Linked DNA regions of Homo sapiens: region 2 is reported to be linked to region 1. Evidence: microRNA targets listed by miRTarBase, many of them from high-throughput screens and not tested one by one. Region 1 holds a microRNA gene; the other region holds the end of a gene's coding sequence.

Region 1 (5,000 bases):
GAGGGAGACTGATTTTTTTTAAATCATGCTCATCATCATCATCATCATCATCATCATCATCATCACGTTCCTTATCATGGTTATCATTTCCTCCTGCCAGGTGGAGCGACCACCAGCGCCGGCTCGCCTCCTGCGCCTTCCCCAGCGAAGGCAGCAAGCAGTTCGGGCTTGGCCGTGGCGGCCGCTCCCAGGATGCTTCCTGCACCTCCAGCATCCCCCCCCTTATTCATCTGCCTGTGTATTATCTCGATCCTTTTCATTTCAGTAGATCCACTGCCTTTGGTTGGGCCGGCTGAATCGCTGGGGACTGCGGCCAGTCTCTTAAAAAAGGAGAACAAAAAGCCGAAGACCTTGTGTGGCCGCCGGGACAAAGCACCTTGGGTTCGGCGAGAAGGGACGCGCAGGAGCGCTGAACCCAGAACACGCGTGGCCGCTGCGGAAGGGCGTCCGCCCGGCGTGCGGAACGCTGAGGGTATTCGGATTGTCTTTTATTTGTCCCTGTGGCTTGCTTTCACAGTGTCTACGTAGGAGAGGGGTCGGGGTTGTTGGGGTCTCTTTTTTTTTCTGGGAGGGGTAGCTGAATTGTGGGAGACCTAGGTGGACTTGACTTGGCTTTCCTGCTACTCTGCGTCTCCTTCTCAAGATGCGGGGGTTGGAAAGGGGACAGGGGACTCAAGGCTTAGAAAAGAGAAGGAGCCCTCTGCTGCCTGGAGGGCTAAGGGAGTAGAGAGTGGAGATGGAGGTGAGTAGGGATGGGCCAGCCCGAAGAGCACTGAGGAGGAGAAGGGGTCTTCTCCTCCCTCGGGTCCAGTGGATGAGTTTTGCTGGGAATGAGAATTCGGGTGTCTGTCGATAGGAGCGCTGAGAAATTGATGAGAAATTGACATGTCCGTGCACATGCATGAGGCGGCGACAGGATTTGTGTGTAAACAGTGTGGAGAGGTGGAGGAGGGCATGGGGGTGGGGGCTTAAAATGATGTCTTATTGTCCTTTTGGCTTTAGGGACTCTCATCCTCTGTCTCGCCCCCTTTTTTTGACCCGGGGATCCAGCCGCATTATACACGAGTGACCTTTTAAATCTACGTCCACCCTTTACCTGGTAAAGCCCGCTGACAGTTGGGGGTGGGGTGGGGAGAGTGTAGGGGTGCTCTCTCCCTCTCTCCCTCCCTCCGCCTCTCCTCCCTCCCTCCCCCCTGCACTCCTCTCTCTTCCTCCCTCCCACCTCCCTCGCTCCCGCCCTCCCTGCTGCATTTTGCATGAGCTATCTAGGTCATTAGCATTTTAGCGTATGCAAGACTTGACAAAGCTGATGAGGGGCCAGATGGGCCTCGCTCTTATGGTTTTTTTTTCTTCTTCTTCTTCTTCTTCCTCTCTCTCTCTCTCTCTCTGTCTCTCTCTCTCTCGTCTCTCTTCCTTTCCCCCCTCCACCACTTGGGACCTGAGCGAGAGGACTGCAGCAGGCGAGTTCCGGAAGGCTGAATCCCCAGGTCCCAGCCCCGGACCGCGGCAACTCGCCCCTGCGGCACGCCCGGCCCGGCTGCGCCCCCACTCAGCGATGGAGGTAAAGAGGCGGCGGCCGCGCGCCCTGCCCCGGCTGCCGCTGCCGAGTCCCCGCTGCTCTCCTTGTCCTTCGCTCTCTTCTTCCTCCTCCTAGTCCCCTTCAGTTTCCTGGGCGAAGCAGAGGGCGACATGGGTGGGTGGGTTGCTGCGCTGGGGCGAGGTGGGGTCGATGTTGTTTTTTCATTGTCTGGAGCTGCAGGGGAGGCGAGGCGCGGGGAAAGGGGCGAGGGGAGCCGGGGTAATTAACACGGGGGAGGCACCCCTCCGTCTCCCACTTCCACCCACACCCCCATCCCTCCACCCCCTCCGCTTTGCAGGAAAAAGCCTGGATGCGAAAGGATGGGGGAGAACAAAGAGCCTTTGGAAGACGTCGCTGTTATCTCATTGTCTGTGTGATTGGGGGAGCTGCGGCGGGGAGGATGCTGTGGTCCCTTCCTCCGGCGTTCCCCACCCCCATCCCTCTCCCCGCTGTCAGTGCGCACGCACACGCGCCGCTTTTTATTTCTTTTTCCTGGTTTTCTTATTCCATCTTCTACCCACCCCTCTTCCTTTCTTTCACCTTTCCTTCCTTCCTTCCTCCTTTCCTTCCTCAGGAGAAAGGCCTCTCTCTCCGTGTTCACAGCGGACCTTGATTTAAATGTCCATACAATTAAGGCACGCGGTGAATGCCAAGAATGGGGCTGGCTGAGCACCGTGGGTCGGCGAGGGCCCGCCAAGGAAGGAGCGACCGACCGAGCCAGGCGCCCTCCGCAGACCTCCGCGCAGCGGCCGCGGGCGCGAGGGGAGGGGTCTGGAGCTCCCTCCGGCTGCCTGTCCCGCACCGGAGCCCGTGGGGTGGGGAGGTGTGCAGCCTGTGACAGACAGGGGCTTAGAGATGCAAACAGACTCAGGGAGAGAAACAGAAGCTGATTCTGTGACAGAAGCAGATCTGTGCAGCACAGATGCGGTGTGCGTGGGGAGGGGGTCGCCTGGGAGCGCATTGCGGAGTGCTTGTGTGTGCAGATTTTTCTCTGGGCTCAGGACTCATTGTATGTGGGTCAACACCTTCCTCCGTGACTGTGTTTTTGTTCTGAGCTGAGTTTTTTGGTTTGCCCTTAAAAAAATAATAATTTGGCATCCAGAGACTGGCAGACTGCCTCAGGGCCTGGACTGCGGATATATTGTGTTCTGCTTGAGGTTTGGGGAGGAGGGCAGGCGGTAGGAAGGGAGAGGGGGAGCTGTTTGTCACACTTTGCTGTAGAGCTGAGAGCACCTGACAAGCTTAAGGAAGTCGTTGGGCTATGTGGACAAGAAGGAGCCAGCTCCCAGCGGGTTCACAAGCTCTATCGGAGTTGAAAGCGTGGTCATGGCTCTAAGGAGCACCTCACGCCCTCCCTGTAGCTGTTATTGCAGTTTCAGGCAGAGATCCAGGAGCTGCAGAGGAAGGGAGAGGCACAATAACCTACATGGACCCAAGGGAGACATGTGTTCCTTTAAAAATGTGAACAGAAGGAAAAACAGAATGTGTGCAACTGGGGGTCTGAGGAAAGACTGTTTTGAAAGAGGCTGTCAGGGAATGGAAAGGGTTAAGCTTTTCATCCTGAAGAACCTGCTTCCCAAATCAGGCCTTCCTCCCATCACTAGACCCTGAGCAGCAGCTGGTCCTAGAGACCCCCCTCGTACTGCGCTGCCACAGTCTCATCCCATTTCCAGCTCTGTATTAACCACCAAGCTGCAGCGGATGGGGCAAGACCTAAGCTCATTAATTTCCAGGTGGAGGAAATGGAGGAGGGGCAGGTCCCTGCAGTAGAGGGAGGAGCAGAGAAAGGAGGCCAAGAGCTGGATCCTTCTGCCCAGGAAGCCTGCTGCATCCCTTCCCCCGAGCATGGCAGAGGCCTGGCTTTGCAAGGCCAAGGCCATAAGGGATGCTTAGGAGATTAATTTGATTCCTGACACAATAATCAAGCCCTAAGAGTCTCCACTGAAGCTTACTGAGGACTTCTTTCCTCTCCAAAGCCTCAGTCTAGCCTGCTAAATAAATTAGTATTCAGTGATGCCTTGGATCAGGGCCCCTCCCCGGCCTCAGTTTCCCCAAATATTTATTAAGTACCTACTGTGTGCAATCCTTGTGTAATTATTAACTCTTAGGCTCTTCATTTGCCCTCCTAAAGCAGTGTTTAGAGTCAGGCAGAGGTTAAGTGTGTTGCACCTCACCTAGATACTTCCAGAACCTTCTCTGGGTCTGCAGAATGTGGCACAACCTGCTTGCCCCCGCAGAGAGAAAGCTGCAGTGCACATCCTGCAGACTGCAGGTGCTGGGCTGCCTCTGGAGTCCCAGAAGGCAAGCTTGGCTGCAGGACAGAAAGGGAGAACAGCTTCTCTCACCCCTGAGCCTTCACAAGCCCTTGTCTATTTGCCGTTGCCTTCAAAATATACCTCCCCCGAAACCAGTAGCTTTCTGAGTCCTGGTGTCCCCTCCGCCCTTTCTGGACAGGTTTGGGAAGAAGAAAGCAGTCAGTGCTGGGCCTTATTGGGGTGTGAAGCGCCTTGCTCTGCCCCTTCTGCTCACTGTGAAGGCCGCTGGATGCTTCTCTTAGGCATGGTTTAAGCCTCCGATTACTAAACCCCTTGCCCCACAAACGTCCACATTGACGAGCCTCTTTTTAGTAACTGCTTCCCCGTAATTCCTTCAGAGGTTGCTGTACCCTTCGCTGATGTGCTGCCCTCCTGTAAAACCTCCAGATGCCTTCCCACGTAATGCCCCTTTCAGATGCTTTAAGCTGAGAGCTTAAACCACAGGTACCATGGCTGACGCCTGCCAGGTTTCTGCTGCAGATAATCTATGATGGGAGGGGCATATTTTTTACTTCATTACTTATGTAAACTCTTGTTCCAGAAAGCTTTAATGTGTGTGGGAGTGTTCTGGGTCTATTAGGTCTGTGCGCATGGGTGTGGGCATTTGCCTGTGTCCACCGGGTGGGTCTCATTATGAAATGTATGTTTATGTAGGGCTTTAATGGCTGAAAATGGCAAAGAGATGAATAGACCACTTGGCCCCATGTGTAATTGCCAGGCCCCTTCTGTGCTCAAATGAGGTGTCCGAGTGAAGGTCAGCCCTTCCCTTCTGTATTTGGGGCCTATTTATGCCACCAGTAATTTTATAAGAAATCTGAATAGTTCTCCCCTTTGAGTGCATTTAACTCTTTAGTATCTTCTCTCTTACCTATTTGAGCCCCTCTAGCTACAGTCTGGCTTAAATGAAAGGGGAATTATATGCTTAAGAAAAAGTAGGACACGGTTGAGGCAGTTTGCTGACTGAATACGCGAAGAAGGACCTGATGGGCTCATATGCACCACTGCCATCACAGTCCCCATCGTGATGCAAGCTTATATGATTCTTGAGGTAACTCTACCAGATACTTCCAGATTTAGAAATGTGTCAAAGGAAAAATTGGTGATAC
Region 2 (5,082 bases), not on the chromosome of region 1:
TTGGTTCTTAAACTACCCGTGTGTCTGCATAGTCCAAAATCCACTTTTGTTTCAGGAAGTTAAAAAGAAGCTGGAGATGGCAACTAATAAGACCAAGAGCTGGAAGGACAAAGTGGCCCATCATGAAGGATTAATTCGACTGATAGAACCAGGTAACAGACTCTATGAAGTAATCATATATTTATTTTTATTTTTCATTTTTATTTTATTTAATTAATTTATTTATTTTGAGATGGAGTCTCGCTCTGTCGCCCAGGCTGGATGGAGTGCAGTGGTGCGATCTTGGCTCACTGCAAGCTCCGCCTCCTGGGTTCATGCCATTCTCCTGCCTTAACCTCCCAAGTAGCTGGGACTACAGGTGCCCGCCACCACGACCGGCTAATTTTTTGTATTTTTAGTAGAGACGGGGTTTCACCGTGTTAACCAGGATGGTCTTGATCTCCTGACCTCGTGATCCGCCCGCCTCAGCCTCCCAAAGTCCTGGAATTACAGGCGTGAGCCACCACGCCCTGCCCATATATTTATTTTTAAATTTATTTTTCTGTTTCACTTGTGTATTTGAATTGTACTAAAGAAACTTTTTTAGCCCAAATGTAAAAAAACCAAGCTGTTCAGGATAAATTTCTCTTGAAAATCTTATCCCCTAATAGGTAAGAGGGCCCAGTTAATCCCCTTGGTATACATCTTCTAATTGTTTTAGCTGGTATGACATTTATGCATGTTCCTCAAAGAAGAAATAAAGTAGGGAAGTTACTATTTTGTCTGTAGAAAAATGATGGGGTATCCTGAAGAATATAATACTTCCTGTATTTAAAGCATGTTTGCCTCTTAGGTTCAAAGAACCCTCACCTGATCACTAACTGGGGACCTGCAGCTTTCACTGAGGCAGAACTTGAAGAGAGAGAGAAGAACTGGAAAGAGAAAAAGACCACGGAGTGACTGAGCTTGCTGGCAGTCACGTCAGTTATGTAGATACTGCATGGCAGGAGAGCTTTACGCTAAAGACAAAAGAAACAGCTTTGGGGGCCGGGCGTGGTGGCTCACGCCTGTAATCCCAGCACTTTGGGAGGCCGAGGCGGGTGGATCACCTGAGGTCAGGAGTTCAAGAGCAGCCTGGCCAACCTGGTGAAACCCTGTCTCTACTAAAAATACAAAAAAAATTAGCTGAGCGTGGTGGCGGGCGCCTGTAATCCCAGCTACTTGGGAGGCTGAGGCAGGAGAATCACTTGAACGTGGGAGGCGGAGGTTGCAGCGAGCTGAGATCATGCCGTTGTACTCCAGCTTGGGCAACAGAGTGAGACTCCATCTCAAAACAAAACAAAACAAAACAAAACAAAAAAACCCGGCTTTGCTGCTTTTAACTCTTCTTCCTTCTGTGCCTCTCTAAGTGGGTCAGTATCCTAAGGAAGCCTTCTTATTTATCTTCCTGCAAACAAGGGTTACCTGAAAAGAAAAAAAAAGTCAACATTGTCAAGCTGTTTGTTTACTCTTTCTTTGAAAACATCACCTTCTGAAATTTGTCTTTTAGCTCTCTCAGATTCTTCCCCAAATGAGGCAGGGTGCAGACAGCACAGTCAGCTCTGCAGAGTTTGGAGGGGCTCACTGCCACTGGGTACTCAGAACCTCTGTGGACTGGATGTCAGCTCTTTCCTTTGGCAGCGTGTTTCCTTTTCCGAGTATGTGCTGTTAAACTAGATTGGCCGGTTCGCTTTCCATTTCCTGACACTTGACATGGAATGCCTTTGACCATTGGTGCTCTGACAGAGAAGTCATGGAGTCATTGCCATTTCCTGGTTGCCCTTTTGGAATGTGATCCTGTTAGTAGAGGTTTTCTAGCTTCTACTAAGATATTTCTTTCCCTAACCATCATACACTTGGCATGTTTCATTCCCATCTCCTTTCCCCTCACCTTAAAGGAGACTACCCCTTTGCCCCATATTGTCAACCTAATTTTCTCTCGTACTCTCTCTAGTGAATGATGTGCTACCAAGTATATGCCAGGCTGTGAGAGGATTATACTGAGTAGTAGAAAGAAGCTAATTTGAAATAAAAATTATTTGTATAATTAAGAAAGCAGATTAGATGCACATGGTCAACAGGAAGTTGACTGTATGTCTGCTAGTTAGATTCAAAACATCATAAAGATGATAGCATGTCAATATATTAGCCTAGCCATTATGTTAGCCTTTGTTAGGTGGGCAGCTTTTCTGCTTTTTCCCTTCCTCTGTGGTGACAACGGAGGAAATATCCAACAGAAATACGTCTAACAGGGAAATTGGGATCATAGTTTATATGCATCTGATTTGAAAGGAGTATTGAGGAAGGTTTTCATATATGATCTATCTTTGGATTAAAAAGAACATTTATGAAATCAAGCCTTCTAACACTAGTTATAATTGAGAAGCAACAGTAACTCCGTGGACAGCAATCAAGCTTAAAATTGTAAATAAATATGGGGATAATTCAGTTGTTGCAAAAAAAGGGCAGAATTCAGTAGAATAAAGTCCTTTTCTCTTACAGGTATTAAATGAGGACAGAGAACCTCAGGTGTTCTTATGCTAGTGCTTGCTGAGTGCATACTAAGAAAGCAATTCCAAATAGATGTATACATCTAGAGAGAGTGGTATTAGAGATTCAGTGTATGTATTTATTTACATGAGAGGAAACTGGAATATAATCCCATAAATTATCACCTTTTATGACTGGAAAATATTTGCCAATGAAGAAATGGTCTGTAGGTATTTGTCTTAAGATTTTTGGCTGTTTAATAAAAATGTAACTTTAACGGTTTCTTATAGTTGCCTTTATAAAGTGTATTGTCTAAAATATTTTTGTATCATGTGCCTTTGAAATTTGACAGCTGATTTGGGTGTTGGATTTCTGCCCAGCCATTTATCAGTATTATCATTTTATTCAGTAGCTGGCAGGTGTATTAGACCAACGAGACTTAGGTAAGGAATGGAACCTTTCCTGTGGTTTGACTGCACATTACACCAGAAGACTCCAGTATCCCTCATTCCAGAATGAGGAAAAAGTATTCTACAAAGAACCTAATCACCTCTGTGAAATCTATGGGATGGAAACAGTGTGGCCTTAGGAGTCAAATAGTCTCTGCATGGTGGGGAGGATCATGATGGAATATGTGAATTTCTACTTCTAGAAGTTGTGAAATAGGTCCTGCACTTTTGCAGAATGTCCTTCTTTAAACCTGGCTTATTCCACAGCTGTAGCTGATAACATGACCTGGGGCTTAGCTGCTCTAGCCCTGGGTTCTTGGAGACCTCACACTGCCTGGCCCCTGGCCATCCACCTAAGGACTGCCTGCTTTCTGGTCACATGTGGACCTTGATACGACTAAGCGGTTACATATGTGGTTGTGCAAAAGCTTTCTGTTTAATGCATAGTGTTACCGATTTACATCTTGGTTTTCAGTGGCACTATGTCTAGGAGGCAATATCCTTTTAAACAGTGCTTTGGCTAAGATAGATACTTGTGAATCAAAGATAGCACAGAAATGAACTAAGTATATCCCATTTGGAATTATATTTTGATACTATTTAAAATGGTTTCACCTGTTAAAGGGCCAACAGAACTCTTGGTTTTACTTTTGTAATTACTGTACAGAAAATTTCAAGAGTGTTTGAGTGCTTGTCATCAGGTGTTTTCCTTAATAAGTAGGGATATGATCATTTACAGGAATTATATATGAAAAAAGTTTTTGAAATGTATTTTTGTGATGTGCTATGTTGAGGGGAAACCAAATATTTATGATTTTAAAACATTCGTATGAAAACATTGTACAATGTAATATGCTCAACTTTCTCAATTTTTTGCTAATTTTTCTAAGATACATTAAAAATGTTTTATATTTTTTTTTAAGTAAAATGGACCCAGTAAGAAAATTAAAAATACCAGAACATACACTTTAAACTGTCTGATTTAATAAAACAGTGGGGGGTAAAGTTGGGTGTATCTATGTGTATTTTCATATAATGAGATGGACTTTGGTTTAGGGACATTTCCTGAAAACACTGGGTTTGGAGTTTAGACCCCAAGAAGTTAGCTGTGGCCTCATGTTTGGTGTTTGAGTCACGAATGTGGGGAAGCCATGGCTGATGTGTCAGCTCACAAACGGGAACTTACAAAGATGATTTCTCATTCATTGTTGCTGTTACCTTCAAATTTTCTTACCTCTGTTTTCCTTAGTTTTCTTTTTATGCCTTTCAGTTTTTCTTTCACCAGAGTAAACCGTGTGGCTTTTTGTTTGTTTGTTGTGGTTTGCATTGTTGCCAAGATAAAATGCCTGTTGTGGACTAAGTGGGCCCACTCAGGCCAGCTTGATTGTATATTGGAAAGCTGATCTTTCCCTCTTGGAGGGAGGGAGAGGACACTGGTTGGTGTGTTTAAAAACTGTTCTTTCTGAGGCGGGCAGATCATGAGGTCAGGAGATCGAGACCATCCTGGCTAACACGGTGAAACGCCGTCTCCACTAAAAATACAAAAAAATTAGCCAGGCGTGGTGGCGGGCGCCTGTAGTCCCAGCTACTCGGGAGGCTGAGGCAGGAGAATGGCGTGAACCCGGGAGGCGGAGCTTGCAGTGAGCCAAGATCATGCCACTGCACTCCAGCCTGGGCGACAGAGGGAGACTCCGTCTCAAAAAAACAAAAACAAAAAACTGTTCTTTCTCTATCACAGTGGTTCTCAACTGGTGGTAATTTTGCCCTCCAGGGGACATTTGGCAACGTCTGGAGACATTTTTTGTTGTCACAACTGGAGGGAGTGTTGCTGGCATCGAGTAGGTAGAGGCCAGGGATGCTGCAAAACATCTTAAAATGCCCAGGACAGCCCCCATTAACAATTATGTGGACTAAAATGTCAGTAGTGGCAAGGTTGAGAAAACCTGCTCTACAGAAAGGCAAGTTCTATTATCCAGAACACAATATAACCCTTGGAGTCAGGGTTTCCCTTTCAGATGTCCTAGGAGTTGACTGACCTCTTCAGTGCAAATGAGGAGCACCTGGAAGGGAGAATGCCTGTTTCTCTGTGAGCTGGCAGAGAGCAGAGGGCAGGGACCTCTGACAC

Evidence for each region. Region 1 holds the annotated microRNA hsa-miR-124-3p (UAAGGCACGCGGUGAAUGCCAA, at 2,211-2,232, shown strand). A microRNA usually pairs through its seed, bases 2 to 8, with sites in the 3' UTR of a target mRNA and lowers its output. Matches are read on the target gene's strand: a 7mer-m8 pairs with bases 2 to 8, a 7mer-A1 pairs with bases 2 to 7 and ends in A, and an 8mer does both.
Region 2: the mRNA of SWAP70 is a reported target of hsa-miR-124-3p. Seed matches in the 3' UTR shown: 7mer-m8 at 2,841-2,847.

The regions. Positions count from the first base shown.
Region 1 is chr8:9,900,631-9,905,630 of GRCh38, reverse strand. It overlaps MIR124-1 (microRNA 124-1), which reads left to right and starts at 2,159; the gene lies at 2,159-2,243. It overlaps MIR124-1HG (MIR124-1 host gene), which reads left to right and starts at 2,302. Exons shown (of 3, transcript NR_024281.1): 1 at 2,302-4,942. LOC124902057 (a long non-coding RNA gene) reads left to right here. Exons shown (of 4, transcript XR_007061170.1): 2 at 269-472; 3 at 1,003-1,099; 4 at 1,444-1,561.
Region 2 is chr11:9,749,032-9,754,113 of GRCh38, forward strand. It overlaps SWAP70 (switching B cell complex subunit SWAP70), which reads left to right. Exons shown (of 12, transcript NM_015055.4): 11 at 56-152; 12 at 833-3,962. The coding sequence ends at 939. Among named protein-coding and RNA genes, the nearest start is that of SBF2-AS1, 6.7 kb to the right of the region's middle.